Linked DNA regions of Homo sapiens. The protein of the gene in region 1 purifies or fractionates together with the protein of each later gene. This does not show direct contact. Each region holds a gene or a part of one and is shown on either strand. Other genes may lie near its edges.

The links.
Region 2: the proteins of GSTM2 (region 1) and SAR1B purify together in Homo sapiens (co-immunoprecipitation; one large-scale study listed by IntAct). This does not show direct contact.

Annotation. Positions count from the first base shown.
Region 1 is NC_000001.11:109,673,229-109,675,917, reverse strand, and holds the end of GSTM2 (glutathione S-transferase Mu 2), read right to left. Parts: intron 1,172-2,689; coding exon 1,082-1,171; 3' UTR 632-1,081; downstream 1-631. UniProt on the Homo sapiens protein: Conjugation of reduced glutathione to a wide number of exogenous and endogenous hydrophobic electrophiles. Participates in the formation of novel hepoxilin regioisomers.
Region 2 is NC_000005.10:134,608,633-134,612,456, forward strand, and holds part of SAR1B (small COPII coat GTPase SAR1B), read right to left. Parts: intron 1,043-3,824; coding exon 939-1,042; intron 1-938. UniProt on the Homo sapiens protein: Small GTPase that cycles between an active GTP-bound and an inactive GDP-bound state and mainly functions in vesicle-mediated endoplasmic reticulum (ER) to Golgi transport.

The DNA.
Region 1 (2,689 bases):
AATTACCCAGTCTCGGGTATGTCTCTATTAGCAGCGTGAGAACAGACTAAATCCTCAGCCAGAGTATTCAGTAAGCATGTAAAGGCACTTTCAGTTATGCAAGGACTAAAGACATTTCTCTCACAGGTACCCAGGAAAGAGAGGAAGTAAACCCAGAGAGAACGTCCTGATGACAGCTGTGCAGCAAGCCTGGAGAGGGTACCTGGAAGCCATCTGAGAAAAACAATAGAGATTGGGTCCTGGAGACCTAACAGAAGTGATGCAGTCATATAGTGGAGAAGGTAAAAGGGACCCTGGTTCTCTCTGATGGAGATTCCACCCCCTTGGGGTCCTATTCAATGAGACACAAGCTCTGTGCAATTATGGAAAGTACTCAATACGGCTGGATGAATGAATGGGAGATCCAGGCCAAGAAAGAGACATCCTTTCCACAGTGCCTCATGGGGCTTCCTGCTCTGAGTCTCTCAGGAATGGGAGCAAGAATTCTCAAGCGCCTTACTATGCCCAGCAGAATCCTTTAGAACCCAGCCACTGCCAGGATCACCAGCCAGTCCCTTGGAAGAGGCAGTGACAGACAGACAGACAGTCTGGGTAGATGGCCAGGAGCAAATAAGACAAGACACACAGCAAATGTGGTTGAGGCTTTACTTCCATCAGGTAGGCCTAAGGCAGGGACCATGCTGCAGGAGCAGGGCCTGTAAACCAGTCAATGCTGCTCCTTCATGCAACACGGGGACAGCTCGGGGCTGAGCTCCACAGGCGAGGGGCCAGGCAGGCCCTTTAAAGCAGACACAACCACTAACAGGAAGGAAGGTCAGGCTGGCTTTAGTGCAGGGAAGGGTAATGATGGGAGGGGATGTTCACGAAGGATAGTGGGTAGCTGAGGCTTCAAAGGGCCTGCATGGGACAGGGGTTTAGGGGGAGTGAAGAGGGACAATGAAGTCTTGGGAGTAAAGATGGGAATAAACAGGAGAAAGGAACGAGGAGGCAGGTGCTGGGATGCAGAGTCCAGCTGCGCTGCACAGCCTGGGCAGCAGGCTGAGTATGGGCTCCTCACTCCCACCTCCTGGCCTTCAAGGCCCTACTTGTTGCCCCAGACAGCCATCTTTGTGAACACAGGTCTTGGGAGGAAGCGGCTGGACTTCATGTAGGCAGAGATCTTCTCCAAGCCCTGAGAGGGGGGAAAATAAGGCCAGAACTCAAGGTCAGCTGCCCATGAGGGCTGGCACAACCCCACTGCAGACACAGCAGGTCAGGGCCCTGGCCACAGCCTTTCCATGTGGGCTCAAGTGCTGAGGCATCACACAGCTTCTTAGGGTCCCCAGATCTGCGGAGTTAACTCTTCCAACTTCCTTTAAGTAATGTTGTACCACAGTAACAGCTAACACTTATGAAGATTCTACACGGTGCTGGGTGCTCTGTACCCAAGAGAAATTACAACGTAAGCTTAGAAAACCCACTCGACTACTCTGCAAGGCTGAATCTATTATCACCATTTGTCATGTGGGAAACAGAAGTTCAGCAACTTCCTTACATTTAAATACCTAGTAAGGGGAATAGAACTTCAATGTAGCCTGGTTCTGTCTCTCTCCAGTTCTGGCCTCTTTCTGCCAAATTCTCTTCTTCTTCTGCCCCACCACCCCTCACACCAGGCCCTGTCACTCCTTGACTGCACAAACAGTCTCCTTTTCCACAGGGAGGCTCTTGGCTTGTCTGGGTATAGAGACACAGAAGGGACCTCCAGCAGAACAAAGGGGCTCTGAACACACTCACCCAATGTCTCAGTAAAACCTGGATGAAAGTGGAATGGGGAGTGGCAGTGCACAAGAAAATCAAAGGCGAGACTAGGCTCTAATCATTCCCCTTAAAGCAGAAAGTCCAAGGTTCTCCATCTGGTATCTTAGCAAAATCTCACTGTGCCCTAACCCATGGCATCTCCAGCCCTGCTGCAGATCAGGCTACATGACACTCAGATGTGCTGTGCACAATCTTACCAGGATTGAATGCCCAGATAAGGTATTCAAAAACATCCGGCTCACACCTGTAATCCCAGCACTTTGGAAGGCCGAGACGAGTGGATCACCTGAGGTCAAGAGTTGGAGACCAGCCTGGCCAACATGGTGAAAACCCATCTCTACTAAAAATACAAAAATTAGCTGGTCATGGTGGCGGGCACCTGTAATCCCAGCTACTTGGTAGGCTGAGGCAGAGAATTGCTTGAACCCAGGAAGCGGAGGTTGCAGTGAGCCAAGATCGCACCAATGCACTCCAGCCTGGGTGACAGGCTTGACCCTGGCACATAACGGGCCATAGCTCTCAGCTCTCCTCCATCCCTCCCTTCCCACCACCTCTTACCTAACTCCAAGGCCACTCAGCCTGGACCAGAACCGCAGAACCAGAGCTGATGGGAACTAGCTGAGCAAGCAGATCTCTTGATGGGGAGTGGAAAAGGGAAACAGATTCAAGGCTCAGAAGCCTGTTGGACAAATGCCTCAAATCCCCAAATCTGTAGTAATGTAGGATTTGCTGCTCTCAAACAAGTTCAGCACACACTTCACAGGCTGCTCTGCCTGCAGGCCTCTCACTGCACTCATTTCCAGGATGGGGCTGTCATCTATGCATCTCCCACTGTGCCTCACACCCTGCCTCATGCAGAGGAGAAGGTCAGTGAACAGGAGTAAAATCAGCG
Region 2 (3,824 bases), on another chromosome or scaffold:
TTTCCCCACATTTTAAAGTGACCTCAATGAAACCATAAGCTAAATTCTTCTGTCTTCCTAAGGCTCTTCCTGTAAATGTTTACTCTGCTCATCCTTTAAAGGAGTGACATAGAACGTATAGAGCCAGCACCTTAGAAGTGAACAGATGTGGTTTCACTTCTGGCTCTACTGCTTTTGAGATGTGACTTTGGGCAAGTTAGCCTGACTGAAGCTCTAGAGAGAATTAGGAACAGTAGCATCCACCCTATGAAATTGAGAATTAAATCAAGTAATACGCACAGTCTCTGGAACAAAGTAGGAACTCAGGCATTCTCTGTCCTTGTTTTGTAACCATAGAACCTACCTGGACTTTTCCACACGTACAAGTATTTGTTTGCCTGCTCTGGGCAGAGCCATGGTATGATCAACCTTCAATCAAATCATGGACCTGCTTACTCTGTGGCCCCAGATCTGGTGCTGACCTTGCCTGCTGCTGTTGGGCCCCTTTACAAAATATCTGACCTGGGATACTGGAGGGGAGGTAGCTACATATGCCTCTGCTCACTCCTGGGAGTAGTGTCAAAGATGGCATGTCCTATCATTTCCAGGCTGTGGCTTAAGATATAGCATCTTAGCATGACCAGGGACTCAAGATCAACCCACTCCAGGAATATAACAGACATGAAATATACTAAAAGGGTACATTCTGTACAGGGTGAGCTTCTTAAGTCTTCATAAAAGATGTCTGTGTTAGTACTTCCTCAATAGCTACAATTACTCAGTTACTCCCTCTGCATTCTAAGTAATCACTACTTAAAGCAATCACTGAGCTCAACAAATTGCCAAGAGTTTCATCAGAGACTGCAGAAAAGCTGCACTCTGATACCTGTATCTCTGACCTACTTCTGCAGGCTTACCAGAGTGATTTGACTATATTTAGTTTCAGTTATTTAACTTACATCAAGTTCTTCTTTTGACTCTAACAGCCTTTCGTGGTCTGCACAATCCACCAGAAATACAATGCCATTGATAGCAGGAAGGTAGTTTTTCCACACTCTTCGAGCTAACAAAAACAATCAGGGGTTAGAGTTTACTTGTTGGTCAAACCCAGCAGATGGTTTAAGCAAAGAGTCCAACCAGATATCAAGTGCGGTAATCCCTTAGCTGCTGGTACTTCACAATATATTCAAGTTAATCTTTTACCCAGTGGTGCCAAATTCTTCTGAGAATAACTAAGAGGGAATTTCAGGCTTTCCTTGACTGTGGGCAAGTCAAATACTTTAGTCTCTTCCAATTATCATATGTAAGGAGTAGAATATTTAAAATAAAAATAAAAATAAAAAAAAATACACGTTAAGTTCATTGGAGGACTGCTACTAGATCTAAAATATAAGCAGTAAAAAAACTACATATATGTGATTATATATACATAAAATGTGTGTATTTATATTACATATATATGCAGTGTTCATTTTTTGACATTTCTAGTTATCAGATTTTTTTTGCCAGTGATAAATTTGGAATGAGTGACAGAAGGAAATTAATATCAGGTACAAGCTTGTTAAAATAATAAGGCCGGGTGTGGTGGCTCACACTTGTAATCCCAGCACTTTGGAAGGCCAAGGCAGGTGGATTGCTTGAGCTCAGGAGTTCAAGACCAGCCTGGACAACATAGTGAAACCTCATCTCTACAAAAAAACACAAAAAATTAGCCAAGCCGGACACAGTGGCTCATGCCTGTAATCCCAGCACTTTGGGAGGCTGAGGCAGGTGGATCACCTGAGGTCAGGAGTTGGAGACCAACCTGGCCAACATAGTGAAACCCTGTGTCTCTACTAAAAATACAAAAATTAGCCAGGCTTGGAGAATCACCTGAACCCGGGAGGTGGAGGTGGCAGTGAGCCGAGATCATGCCACTGCACTCCAGCCTGGGTGACAGAGAGAGACTCCGTCTCAAAAAAAAAAAAAAAAAAAAAAAAAAATTAGAAAGTGTGGTGGTGTGTGCCTGCCCAGCTACTTGGGAGGCTGAGGTGGGAGGATGGAGCCCAGGAGGCAGAGGCTGCAGTAAGCCAAGATCATGCCACTGCACTCCAGCCTGGGAGACAGAACCAGACTCTGTTTCAAAAAAAATAATTAAAAAAAAACCAAAACAAAATTGTTTTACTCAGAAAAGAAGCTCAAATGTTAATAATTAACTGAAGTCTATGAAATCATAAGAGTAATTTTTTCCATAACATAACTTTCTTCACTGACTTGAGTTTTATGACATACCTTTTTTTTTTTTTTTTAAAGAGACAGGGTCTTGCTCTGTCATCCAGGCTAGTTCACTGCAACCTCAGACTCTTGAGCTCAAGTCATAGTCCCATCTCAGCCTCCTGAGTAGGTAGGACTATCAGTGTCTATCACTATGCCCCATTAATTGTTAAATTCTGTGTAGAGACAGGGTCTTGCTATGTTGCAAGGCTGGTCTTGAACTCCTGGCTTCAAGTGATCCTCCCAACCTCAGCCTCTCAAAGCACTGGGATTATAGGCCTGAGACCCCACACCCAGCCATTATGACATATCTTGAAACAACATAGAAATGAAGTCTCAGACAAATTCCATTAGATTCCAATTCTAATCATCGTATTCCAGAAATTATTTTGTGTATATGCCAGACAATTACATGTCTCAAATGTGCTTTCACTAGCCAGAACCATTTACAATCTTTTCAACTATATGTCGCATCAGGTTTTTAGAATGCCCACCAATTCGGTAATATTGGTTAGTTATGACTTACTATGAGGTAGATGTTGCCAAGTACTTTTGGGGATATAAAAAATGAACAGGCCAGGTGTGGTGGCTCACACCTGTAATCCCAGCACTTTGGGAAATTGAGGTAGGAGGATTGCTTGAGGCCAGGACTTCAAAATCAGCCTGGGCAAGATTGTGAGACCCCATCTCTACAAAAAAAATTTTTTTTAATTAAAACAAAACAAAAAACAGGATTTTAGTCCCCGCAAGTTTAATATAAGAGATAAGGCAGTCTTTCCAAACTTGTTGTAGACATGTACACAAATATACTAAGTGCTATGAAGTATAGCTGAGAGCACTCCAACTGAGAATGGCTTCCCAAGGGAGGTAGCAGGGCATACGCTGGGGCCTAAAGGGGTTACTCATGTGCGGATGGGGATGGCATGAACAAAAGCACAGAGGAAAACACCAAGAAGGTCTGATTTGGTTGAAGCAAAAAGAACGGGAAGGGGAATAGAGGGAAATAAAAGAAAAGTAGGCCAGATGTGGTGGCTCACACCTATAATCCCAACTTTTGGGAGACTGAGATGAGAGGATTGCTTGAGCCCAGGAGTTGGAGACAAGCCTGGGCAACATAGTGAGTGAGACCCTGTCTCTATAAGATAATTTTTAAAAGCCCAGAAAAGTAAACTGGGACCAGATCATAGAGATCCTGAATGCCAGGTTAATGAGTTTGGCCTTTATTTTGTAAGTAATGAGTTAGCCACTGAAGGTTTTTTTGTTTTGTTTTGTTTTGTTTTTGTTTTACAGAGCAGTAACATGTTCAAAACATGATTATGACAGTGAGAGGTAGATTGAAGTAGAGAGAATGGAAGTTAATTTTACTCATACACTTTACCACCAAAAGCAATTCTCATTTGAATTGGCCAGAAGTATCATGAAAATCACCCTTTGCTTTTAAAGTATTTATCGGGGAGTAATAATCCCTAAATTTTAAATCTACTCTGGCCTTGCGTGACTAGAATGAGATTTCATGCACTAGAACTAATGGCCACATTTTTGTTAAGTTAAAATAAAACAAAGTGACTGTAAGAGTAAGAGAATCTTACCTT